Linked DNA regions of Homo sapiens: regions 1 and 3 are each linked to region 2. The links come from fine-mapping of genetic effects on gene expression. A gene starts in region 2. Each other region holds a variant in brackets. All regions are shown on one strand. Distances are from middle to middle. Region 1 has its middle 120 kb from the start of CLSTN2. Region 2 holds the start of NMNAT3 (nicotinamide nucleotide adenylyltransferase 3). Region 3 has its middle 37 kb from the start of NMNAT3.

Region 1 (4,241 bases), 130 kb before region 2:
CCCCATATGTATGAGAATTTAATGTGTGAAAAGGAGTCATTCTACAGGGAGAAAGAATGGACTACTTCAATAAATGACATTGCCCTTGAACCCATTGTATTTCCCTTGGGAAGGGCACAATGCAGAGTGGGAAGATGCTTGGCTTTAGGTCAGGAAAAAGTGGACTCAAATTCCATCTCTATCAATTATATCTGTCATATTGAGTTTCTTCAATTCTATGCTTTTCTTTAAATTGAGGAACATCAGTCCCTGTTTTTCTACTCACAGGATAGTAATGACGGAGGAAACAATCTGAATATTAAAAAACATAGGTTTTGCGCTGCAATTCTCAGGACTCTACAAATGAAGACCCTGGGGTTTAAAAAAAAAAGAGGAAAAAAGCCTCTCACGTGTCTAAAGCCTGAAATGTTAAGACGTCACTGTTAGAATATCTTTCTAACCTCATCGTCTCGGTCCATGCTGTAAATTCCCTGAGAGGCAGCTTTTTAAACTATTGCCAGCCAGTGAACCCTGAAAGGGAAGAAATTCTCTGAGAACAGGCTTGAATGAGCAAGCTGAGCATAAAATATTCATCAGAGGACAAGCTCAAGGCCAAAGAGGCTAGGAAAACTAAAGACCACCGCTGCCATCTTCCAAGGATTGCAGCAGTCAACTCTCCAGTCTTTGTAAAGAATGCTGGTCATTTGCTTGTTGGCTGTCCACTCCATGCCCTTTTGCAGCTCTACTCTGTATGGTAAAAAACCATACTTCTCAGGCTCTCTTGCCAATGTGCTCCTGGGTGGACTCAGCTAGTGGGAGACACAAGTGGAAGGCTGGAGGGTGGGAAGAATGAAGAGAGCAGGGTATTTCTTCTTGTCATGCGTTACTTCAGTGGTATCTCAGTAGGGAATAGTAGCAATGGTTACTTTTCTCCTGTGATTCTAGCTCTGGAGAAACAGATCCTTTCCTTATTGCCCCACCTCCCACTGGACAGGCCCCACCATGTTTCTCAAGCCAGCTTGATGGCCCTGGCCTCTGAGCTCTCCTCCTATTGTTGCTCCAGCACTAAAATGATAGCAGTTTCCTGTTGTTGCTAATCTCTGGAATTCCTCACTGTCCCACAGTTTGGCTTCTCAGCTCTTCCATTATCTGTATAACAAATGCCCTATGTTAAATTTCTCTACTTGAAAGATCTAGAATCACTTCTATTTTCCTGATTGATAGGGAATCTCTTGAATAAAACATTAAATACTTGTACGAATATTAAGGCTAACATATGGCACCTATATGTGCCAAGGATTGTGCTAAGAGCTTTAGATCATTTCATTTTATTTATCTAATCAACCTCATGAGTTAGGCATATTATTACCCTGATATTACAGATGACAGGAACTGAAGCTTACATTCAAAGTTGAAATCTTTTCTTTCACAGAAAATATTTTTTATCTGGGAGGAGGCTGATTCTGAAAGATGAGAGAACTAAGTCAACCCTCAAAACCCTGTACCCTACAACTTCACTGGAACTGTCAAAGGTGTTTAAACCAGAGCCACTCCATCTTGAATAAGGGCTGGGTAAAACAAGGCTGAGACCTACTGGGCTGTATTGCTAGGTGGTTAGCATTCTAAGTAAGTCACAGGATGAGATAGGAGGTCGGCACAAGATACAGGTCATAAAGACCTTGCGGATAAAATAGGATGCAGTAAAGAACCCAGCCAAATCCCACCAAAACCAAGATGGTGACAGAAGAGTGACCACCGGTCATCCTCACTGCTACACTCCCACCAGCCCCATGACGCTTTACAAATGCCATGGCAATGTCAGGAAGCCACCCTATATAGGGGAGGCATTAATAATCCACCTGTTGTTTAGCATATAATCAAGAAATAACCATAAAACTGGGCAACCACTCTGCCTATGGAGTAGCCATTCTTTTATTCCTTTACTTCCTTAATAAACTTGCTTTCGTTTTATTCTATGGACTCAGCCTGAATTCTTTCTTGTGTGAGATCCAAGAACGCTCCCTTGGGGTCTAAATTGGGACCC[CT/T]TTCCAGTAATAGAGCCTCTATACACGGTTGTAGGCACTGCCTAGCCATTCCATCAGCTGAAGTGAACACATTGGTTCTGGCTGGTGACCCCCCTCACTAGTTCTTCTTTGAGCAGAAAAGCACAATCATGATCTGCAGATGGTCATCTGTCTTCCTCTATTGAACATCTGTGTGGTGGCTTTGATGAAGAGAACTAGGGGTGGCCACCTCAGCCATTTCACAATCACAGAATCTTTTATCGCCAGAGCCTTTGCTGGACATTAGGGTGGTTGAGACTTCCATTCTGAATCTTGTCTTTCTTTGATCATTTTGCAGAGAAAACACAAGGTGTTATTTAGGCTGCACAGAAAAGCCTGCAAATTGCTCCTCTCTGTCCTAATGCTTCTCTAAAACATGACTTTCCTCATTACCCCCTACACTCTCCTGATCACTTCCACAACTGCTGCCTACTCTCTTAATATTCTTCCAAAGTAACTACATTGAAAACCCATAAAGGCTGATTTCTGTGGAGACTTCCATCTGCCTCAGCTCTCACCTTCCAACTTAAGGAAGGCAATTAATTGTTTCCTTATGTATTCCTATATGCTTCTTTCCCCTATCACATCTTGAGATCAAGAGTTCTTGGACTCAACACACAAAAATTTATCGATTCTTTTCCTAATTTGCATGCCTGTCCCCTTCCAGAGAGCCCCATGCCTCATTTCCCTTCAGTGGCTTAAACATTAGAGATGAGAGAGACAGAAATATTCACAAAGATGAGTTTTGCCTACATTCTGGAATTTTTGTTCTATTTTTCTGGGGGAGAGAGGTACTCAGCATGTTCTGCCACTTGGTTTCATAACAAGAGCCTAAGCAATCAAAAGTTTATCTCTAGTTGAGAGCAGAAAACTCCCTTTTCCTATTACCTTTGGCCAGTGATGTGGGTTCTAGTTTATTATTAGGCTTCTTGTAAACTAGAAGCCACTCATATCTGCAGATAAGAGAATACATCTGGTGATAGACAGCTTTTACAGCTCTTCCCTTATTGCACTCTAGCCACTTTTAGAAGACAGCAAGCAGAGCAATTTGAAAAATATAAGCAATTACTTTAAACTAATATAAGTTCTTATTATGTCAAGGTATCTGTTTTGTAAAGGAAGACACTTGGAGGTAAAAAAATCAGAAATGTGAGGCTGTCTATTCAACTATCAACCAATCAATCAGTCTCTAAGCACAGTTTAAGCATTTACTCCATGCTGGGTAAAGAATAATCAGGGAGGGGGCAGGAAGTGGCTGACTCAGCCTGTGTACTCTCTGGATTTACTGCAAAATTTAGGAGACATGGTTCCTAAAGACCCACACCTTGATCCTAAAATGTGCTCCCCTCAGATTTGTCATGGGTGCAGTCAGGCTGTGCCCAACAAGGGCATGTTTACATGAGAGGCCTAGGAAGTCTCCTAGGAAACAATCCATCTAAAGAAAAGGGAAATTCAAAGCACACAAGTTTAGTTTCAGGACAGAGTGACAGTTTGGTACCTGGGGAGGAGGGGGTTGGTAATTCCGAGCCTAGCCCTTGTTCCATAGTCTAGTGGAGAAAACTTCTGAATGAGAAAACACATTCAGAAGCCTAGGCAAAGGAGACTGCAAAAACAAACAAACAAAGCAAGATGTAAATTAATGGAAGAGTTCTACACTGTTTATCTGTACTCTTTGGTTGCAAGTAACCAACACTAACTGAGGCTGGATTAAACAGGAAATGAAAATTTATTTTAAGGATGTGAGTTGGCTTTCAATACCCACAGACAAGAATGTAGCTGGAGACCACAAAGATCTAAACCAGGAATGGAAACAATCAGGAGCATGAAAGTACTGTTCCTCCATCTCTCTTCTCTGCCTCTCTCAGTGCATGGGAGACACTGTTTCTCAGAAAACTGAGCTCAAATTGTCTCTTATTTGGCCAGTGGGAGATTATTTAAGTTTCCTTCTGAATACTTTTAACACCACCCTGACTGACTCCTTGATTTCTGGTGTATCAAGATGTTTCAGGCTTACCTGGAATATTCTTTGACCCAGACATAGAGCCAGACATTTCCCCCAAAGAGTTCTGACTCCTTTTGGTTGGAAGTGATGTTTGGAGACCGCAATCTGAGTTCTAGGTGTGCTCATTGCTATTTGGTTGGTCATTGTTTCTAGATCTTTTCCAGGAAGAAAACTAGGAAATATGGTTTTAAAATATT
Region 2 (4,241 bases):
CTGGCTTAATCTTTTATTGAGCTCCCCTTTTCTTCCCTGTATTGCTTCTTCATTACTCTGCTGGTGTTCCATGTACCTCTCAAATAACTACTTGCATTAATTCTTACCTCAGGATCTGGTTCTGAGGCACTCAAGCTGAGACATCCTCTATGTAAAATCTTCCTCCTTCCTGAGGTGGCATTAGGTGGCCACCTTCCTTGAGCCATAATGGCAGATAGGATCCAGGAGAAATGAAACTTACCAATAAAGGAGAGATCTGAAAATATTATTCCCATTATACCCATAATCCAGTAGTCTTTTTGTGAGCTTAAGCAAATACAAGACTTGCATTTAGGTATTCCTCCTTCTAAAAAATTAGGAGGTAGTTGCCTCTCCAAAATGGATTTCTCAGCCATTGCGTCTTCACCGCTTAGGTTAGGTAAAGCTTGGCTATTATATGAGGTTCTTACCTTCCAGCACAAGGGGACGCTACTTTTTTAAAAAAATATTTTTATTTCCATAGGTTATTAGGGAACTGGTGGTATTTGGTTACATGAGTAAGTTCCTTAGAGGAGATTTGTAAGATTTTGGTATACCCATCACCCGAGCAGTATACACTGAACCCAATTTGTAGTCTTTTATCTCTCACTCCCTTCCCATTCTTCCCCTCTGAGTCCCCAAAGTCCACTGTGTCATTCTTATGTCTTTGCATCCTCATAGCATAGCTCCCACTTATGAGAATATACCATGTTTGGTTTTCCATTCCCGAGTTACTTCACTTAGAATAACACTCTCCAATCTCATCCAGTTGCTGTGAATGCCATTAATTCATTCCTTTTTTCTTGCCTAGGAAACCAGGCTTCCTCCTAGACCAAGCTTTAGTCTTCACTACCTCAGGCAGAGAAAGCTTCCCTTGCATGAGGAAGTCATTGCCCAGCCTCTTCTCTGCTCTCTGTGTGCAGCTTCTCCCTCCCTGGCCTAGGGCCCTGACCCAGAATGACTCTTCAGCCCACGATTTTAATCGAAGGCCTCTAATCAACCTGTGGTACTACATGCTACACAAGATTCTCAGAAATCCCTAAGCTTTCTCATGAGCCTCCCACCCTGCTGGGAAATAAGCTGACTTATCAATTAAAGAATATCCAAAGATGTTAAGCCACTTAATCCTCCCCAAAACTCAGTGCGGTAGGGGTTGTTACCTCCCATTATACGAAAGGAAAGTGAGGCTTGGGAAGTAAAGAGACTTGTCCAAGATCACCTTCTGGAGCCACATTTTACACCACAGGTAAGAGAAAAGGGATCCGAGAGGGCACGGACACTGTGTCTTCAGACTGAGTGGGGAAGTACCATTTACCTGGGTACTTATTGGGTGCAAGTTGCATGCCCCCGGTGCTAATACACAAGGGACAAATTTATGGGCCTCCTAAAACTGTGGACAGTGCACCCGTCCAGCCAACTTCATGGGTGCACCGTGAGGCTCTGGTGATGTGGACAGGCTTATAAAACACTCTCCATACTAAGATGAGGTTGTGTTCCTGTGTCTAGGAAACGCTGGAAATTAAGTGTACAGCAATCAAAAAACCTTGACATCATCCTTGATGTCTCTCTTTTTCGCACACTCCAATTCACTCCATTAGGAAACTGTATTGGCAGAATCTAGTGAATCTTGTCCTTCAAGGCCTCTCTCTGCAAGGCTCCCATGAGCCCTGGGGGCTTATGGAGAGTTCTGGGTGGGCAGAGGAAGCCAGACTGCGTTAGGGAAGCAAATTTGGGACCTAAATTTCCTAAGAAGGTTTTAGGGGATAGGGACCCCAATCTCTAAGACCCCAGGATTCTGTTAAGATTTATTTTCTCATTCCAAATAAATGTTCACTGGCAAGCCCTAATTCTGTCTTCTCTTTCTTAAGCAGCCCTCCCTTCCTTCTCCCCACACAACTGTGTATGCTTCAGGCCCCAGAAATCCTTCCCTGCTTTGAGGTCTGGCGTTTACCAGGGCAGGGCTTGAGAATAGAGGTGTAAATTTGTCAGAAGGAAACAGGGGCCGCGCAGTAAGAGAGTAGATCCTCATATAACATGGCAGAAAGTCAATGGATAAATCAAGAAATCGCTATGTAAGTTTCTTTTTTTATTTTTTTATTTTATTTATTTATTTTTTTTTTGCGACAAGCGGGTGACCACTAGAAGAAATTAACGGAGGAATTGTTAAAAAGAGCTGTGATGGGAGGGAGAAGTGGCCTGTTGCTTTCATTATAAGCAAATCTAGATAATTTTATTTTCTAATAAGTAAGTGGGCGTTACTTTCATGTATTTTTTTAAAAGAAAATTAAATAAAAATACAAAACAAACAGAATACAAAACAGGAGAATAAAAAAGCAAACACGCACGCAACACAAAAGAGCCTTGGCGGTTGGGAGCCAGCGGGCGGGGGCGGGGGCAGGGGAGAGGGCGGGGCTTAGGACCCTGGGCGGGGCCAGGGCCGGGTCTCCTTAGGGCCCGCCCCAGCGAAGGGGCGGGGCGCAGATCTGTTTCCCTCAGACTCCATCTGCCCGGGGCCGCTAAGGGAGCGCAAGGTCAAGTTCGCCTTGGCCCCGCCTCCAGCTCAGGTACTAGGGGATCTAGACCTGAGGCTGCCCGGGCCGGAGGCAGCCTTGAGTCCCGAGACCAAACGTCGTTTCCCTCTCGGACCTCGGGCGCCGGGCCGCGCGCTGACCGACAGCCCCTGCTAGGCCCAGCAGGTCCCCTAGTCCCCCGCAGTCCCCCGAGACTCGCCGAGCGCCGTTGCTGAGCCCTGCAAATAGCAGGTAAGCGCAGCGTGGGCCCCTCGTCAGCCCACTAGGACCTGGATCGCGGCTGAATGCCCGGGCCCACGTGACTCCTGGCCCCTAACTGAGTCCTGGGAGTCCCCGCTGGGGCGACAGGTGGCGGCGGAGTGCGGAGCCATCCGGGGTGGCGCGAACCGGGGGGACAGCTCCGCGCTGCCTCTGCGCGCCGGCGGTTCTCGCTGCAGCGTGTCAACCTAACCCCCAGCTCCCCTTTGGCTATGACCAGAGTCCCGGAGACGTGGGTTCGGATCCCACCTTTAGCACTCGTGCACTCAAAGGTTAAAAATATAAGCACAGTGTCTAACAAATACTTAACGTGTTCCACTCAGTGTCCGCTGCTGGGCTAAGTGCTGGGGTTACAGTAGCAGGCCAAAAAATGTGGTGCCCTCCCCCGTGCAGCTCACAGTCCAGTGGGGGGAGACCGACAGCAAATGGATATCTATGCAAACAAGTGTGAACGTTAAAACTGTGGTCAGAGCTATGAAGATTGAAATTCTAGGGTGCTGGAGAGATTTTATCAGGGCCCCCAGCTACAAAGGCTGCTGGAACTAAAACTTTAGAGAATTCCCGGGCGGGGAACAACAGAGCAAACTCATTTTGTTGGGAGAGAATGTGGCTTGAGGAAAGGAGGGTTGGTGGGGCTGGCCTGCAGAGAGCTGGGGGGAAAGCAAGTTCCTTAACCTTAACGTTCTCCTCTGTAAAATGGGATTGTTCTACCCATTGAGAATGGAAATGGTGAATGTAAATGACTTAGCACTGCGTGATGGGTGCTGGATGTTACTCTGCACTAAACATCCAAGGCTTGATGTTGTTCTGGACTAAACACAGTGTGCCTGCCTCTCAGCAAAGTCACTTCCCCTCTCCTTGAGTCCTGTTTCTTCCTCTATCAAATAAGTGGTTCTGAGTAGAATCTCTCAAACAGCCTGTTCTCTAAAATGATGACTGGTTTAGTTGTTCATTCTTGAAACATTTAACTGGCGCCCACTTTACCCTGGCTCTGAGGATTCAGAGAGAAATCAGACAGGGGCCCTGCCCTCCTGGAGCCCATGTCCGGTGGGCCAGGTGAAATAAAGTGACAGTTCCACCCTGGCACAACCCAGAGAAAGGGTTCTTACCCACTGGCCTTGCAGGGGAAAGCTTCTCTGTTTTTCTCAGAAAGCCACCCAGGAGCCCCTGAAGGTATGGTTCACACAGCTCCACTGAGCATCAGTTACTTCTTGAATTTCATTGGTGGTTCTCAGCTTTTGGTGTCACCTCTTAAAACTGGACAGAAGACTTCCCAGAAGCAGCAACTATGCTGGGACCTTGCTAAGGACGTGTCAGACCTTGAGACCCCATGGATTTGGGAGAGCATTTTAGGTTTCAGGAAACATCTGTCAGCTGCTCACTGTATTTTATTGGCTCAAATGATCCCAATTTCTTATTTGGCTCTGTTCACAA
Region 3 (4,241 bases), 36 kb before region 2:
ATTTGTTCAGAAAGTGAATCTCTCACACAAATAACAATTTTTAGAAACAAATTGTGTTGAAGAGCAGGCAGCTAGGAACTCATTGGCCATGTTCTTCCAGAGTACCTCCACCACACACATCACCACACCTGACCTGCCCATCACTGCTCTGCCCTGTCTCATGCAACATGCTGTGGGTTGCTGGGAGAATAGGGTGGGCTTTAGGCTCAGGGTTGAGGTTGTACAGCCTTCAGGTAGGACAGGAGCTAGCTAGCAAGAGGAGGCAAAAAGAGAACCCTTGGGTAGAAGATCCCTCTGAGGGAGGAACTGCTACCTAAGAGGTGGGGCATGGACATAAAGGGGGTTGAACAGCATAGAGAATAACTGATTGACAGGGCTGCCATCAAGGAGCAGTTGCCAACATCCATTCTGAAGCTTTCAGGTTGTTAATATGGCTATGCTCAGGAGAAAGAAGGCTGAGTAGTCAAAAACGTTTGGGAAAAGCTTGATCAAAATTATATGGGTTCCTTTCAGCCAGACTTCTAAGAGCCTTTAATGTGTAAATGATGAGGATTATAGTTTTGGGTATGTATGCAACCTGTTAGATCTTACAGTCTCTCTCTCTCTCTCTCTCTCTCTCTCTCTCTGTCTCTTCCAGAGCATCTCAAAGGGTTAATGAGCTGCACCATTCTATTGTCAACTGGGTCAAGTTGAAAGCTCAGAATCTCCTTTTCTCTATGGCTCCAAGTTCAAGTTGGCTAAAAGCAGAACTTTCACAAGACTTGGGAAGTGGAAGTGAAGCAGTAACTGTTTCTCCCTAAACGTCTTTGAAGTCAGAAATGTAACAGAAAGACAGAGAGGTGCCTGATGGGTTTCAACTTGTTCTCATCCCGTTTCTAGCTCTAATCACCAACAGTGGTTCCACACCCACTACCAGATGCCTGGTTACCACAGAAATAGCAGCTGCAGAGATTCAACAGCTTCCCACATACCTTTCCATGAATCCCACCTCACATTTCCACTTCAACATTTGGACCTGCCTGACTTCTCAGATTCTCCCTGCAAGTTCCAACTTGCCCATCCATGTCAGGGCTTGAGGAGGATGGATGGTGACTATGATTCTCCAAATTCCCCTTTAAACTGCATTAGTTTGCTAGGGCTTACACCACAAAGTACCACAGATCAGTTAGCTTAAACAGAAGAAATTGATTTTCTCATGATCTGGAGCCTAGAAGTTCATGATCAAAGTATCAGTAGCATTAGTTTCTTCAGAGGCCTCTTATCTTGGCTTCTAGATGGCTGTATTCTCTTTGTCTTTACGTGGTCTTTCCTCTGTGTGTGTCTGTGTCCTAATTTCTTCTTATAAAGACACCAGTCAGATTAGGGCCCATCTTAGTGATTTATTTTACCTTAATTACCTCTTTAAAGACCCTGTCTCCAAATACAGTCAGATTCTGAGGTACTGGGGTTAGAACTTCAACATATGAATTCAAGGAGGGACCACAATTCAGCCCATAACATGAATCTTCACTTCCCAAATTTTTTTTCGCAATTGTGTAAAGTCTAATTCTTATAGTAAATCCCTTTTCCCGTGACATACACAGTGGCTCCACCTATCTGACTGAACCCAAATACAGAAGTGGTACTAGGATTGGACTGCTGCTGTAAAAGAAAATCAAAACTAGTTATATTGGCCTTGGGACTAGATGGTGGGCAGTGGCTGAAAAAGTAGTGAGGTCAAGTGATGCCCCAAATGCAACCTGCCTCCAGCTTGCAAAGAGGCAGTAGAGGGCTCTGGCTGGGAGTGGGTTGGAGTGCCTCAGGGACAGGGATACAGGTGGACTACCCCAAAATAAACCTCCTTTCAGCCATGGCTTACTGTGCTGATGGCTAAACCCAGAACGTGAAGAGACAGTCCTTCTCAAGGACACCTGGCCTGGTCTAGCCACCAAGCTGACCACGAGACAGGAGCCTCCAGCAACAGGGAAATAGCTATCTTCTCCAGATGACCAGACACATAGGTGAGGCAATTAGCGAACCACTTAAGTCTATCTATAATTAACTATCTATATGTGTGCCACAAACAATGCATGTCCTTCTTCTCCCCTACATTATGCTCCAGCCAAACCAAACCACTTATAGCTTCCTGAAATGTCAGGCTATTTCA[C/T]GCCTCGGGGCCTTTGTTCAACTGCTCCCTCCCACTCGGAAGCCCTGCCAGCATAGCTGCCTAGCAAACATCTATTCATCTTTCAAGCACCACCTTTACTCTGCAGCTTTTTCTTTTGACATCCAGCTAGCTATCATTTATTAAGCATTTGCCATGTTTCAGGAAATATGCAAGCTACTTCATTTGATCCTCTTGACAGCTCTATGACATAGATACTCTTAGCCCTTTTTACAGATGAGAAAACAGGTTCCGAAAAGTTAAGTTATTTGCTCATAGTCATCCATCTATAGGTGGGACAATTGGGCTTCAAACTCAGACCATTGTGATGAAAGCCTGGCTCTACACATCCTCGTATACTTAATAAGATTGGTCCTCTGAAGCTAGGTTTGAGCCAGAGACTGAGGTGCTTTGGGGTTTCTACCAGCATCCTGATAAGTTTTATAGCAGTCTGGAGGTCAGCAACCCCATCTGAAAACAATTCTTTTCAAGCAAGGCACCCACCAATGTCTGGATCTCTCTGGAACCGCTTGAACAGGACACAGAAATGCCAGTCTGCATCAGGAGGGGCTCCCTCTGCCACAAGGCAGCTCCTGCTTGTCAGAAGTTCTCAGAATACCCCAGACACCTTATAGTGACTCCTGACTTCTCCAGAAGACAGTCATTCTTCCTACAGCAGAAGTGAGAAGTAGGACAAGACGTAGGTTCAAATCTTGCCACCACACTCTCTGCTCCTAGCCCCTCAAGTTGGGAATCAAGAGGCAAGCATCTAGTTTGTTTTGTTTGTTTGTTTTTTAATTTTTTTATTTCCATAGGTTTTTGGGGAACAGATAGTATTTGGTTACATGAGTAAGTTCTTTAGTGGTGATTTGTGAGATTTTGGTACCAAGGCCATGTTTCCCAGCCTTCATTTTCCAAAACACAATTAGGTCCTTGCCAAGTCGTGCTAGCTGTATCTTCCAGTCACTTGTTCATAAAGTCACCCATCTGAACTCTAAGTTGACCCTATTTCCTGTATACATGTCACATGTGCATATGTGGGTAGGGAGTAGGTGTGTGAGTGTGTGTTTTTGTGTGTAGGCATATAATGAAAAGTTTGAGACCAGCCTGGGCAACACAGGGAGATTCCATCTTAACAAAAAAAAAAAAAATTTAATTAAAAAATTAAAAAAAAATTTTTTTTAATTAGCCAAGTAGGGTGGCATGTGCCTGTAGTCCCAGCTACTCTGGAGGCTGAGGCAGGAGGATTGCTTGAGCCCAGGAGGTTGAGGCTGCAGTGAGCCATGATCGTGCCACTGCACTCCAGACTTGGTGACAAAGTAAGACCTTGTCTCAAAAATAATAAGATAAAATGAAATCCCATAATTCCATACACACAAGTGTTCTCCAAGCCTCCTATCACCCTTCAAGGCCTAACTTGACTCAACTCCCCAGCAAGGCTATCCCTACCTCTCTCTGGTCAGAGCTAACCCTCTTCTCCTCCATGTGTCCACCATGTCTCGCTCATATCTCTAGCTGGGTATCGATCATGCTCTGTTGTTATGTGTCTCCCCCACCCCTAAGTAGAGTGAGCTCTGAAGAAAGAAGCCAAAGTATTAAAAACTTTCATCACTTCTACCCCATATCAAATTGGTGCCATTGGGCAGCACGTTTGCTGTATGGTCTGCCTTCTTTGAAAGTTCTTCTGCTTCCCATGGCTCATTTTCACAAAGCCATATTTGCATTATTTAAGATTTCAAGGTTGTAGGTGCCCATTTTTCTTATGGGAACAAGTGACTAATGAAAACTTGAAATAAATCAAATTCCTTGCTCAGCGCAGTGTTGGCTACTTGGCACTCAATATATAAGTGTTGAATGAATGAATGATGTTTAATCATTCAAATTCACCCAAAGATATTTTTAATCTCAGAATTCCGCTTTACCCTAAAAAGAAAAAAACAGAGACTTGGACAAAGTTTATGGTCTAGTGAATATGGAAACATAGCTCTCTAGAGACAAGAAAATTGTCTCTTGTCCTTTGCTCTTCCTTATACTTCCTTCATCCTTTCCTCCTCTTGGCTTCTTGGCAAACACACTGTGCTGCTTAGAGGTCAGTGTT

The links. PIP is the estimated chance that this variant, and not a neighbour inherited with it, causes the effect.
Region 1: its variant is the best candidate, but not a certain one, in a credible set for the expression of NMNAT3 in NK cells (Gilchrist 2021, PIP 0.53).
Region 3: its variant is the best candidate, but not a certain one, in a credible set for the expression of NMNAT3 in subcutaneous fat (GTEx, PIP 0.88).

The regions. Positions count from the first base shown.
Region 1 is chr3:139,811,060-139,815,300 of GRCh38, reverse strand. No RefSeq gene overlaps it. Among named protein-coding and RNA genes, the nearest start is that of CLSTN2, 120 kb to the left of the region's middle. The variant CT/T (reference allele first, on the strand shown) is at 2,024.
Region 2 is chr3:139,676,244-139,680,484 of GRCh38, reverse strand. NMNAT3 (nicotinamide nucleotide adenylyltransferase 3) reads left to right here and starts at 2,513. Exons shown (of 7, transcript NM_001401600.1): 1 at 2,513-2,780. RefSeq lists a silencer at 2,410-2,459.
Region 3 is chr3:139,712,686-139,716,926 of GRCh38, reverse strand. No RefSeq gene overlaps it. Among named protein-coding and RNA genes, the nearest start is that of NMNAT3, 37 kb to the right of the region's middle. The variant C/T (reference allele first, on the strand shown) is at 2,147.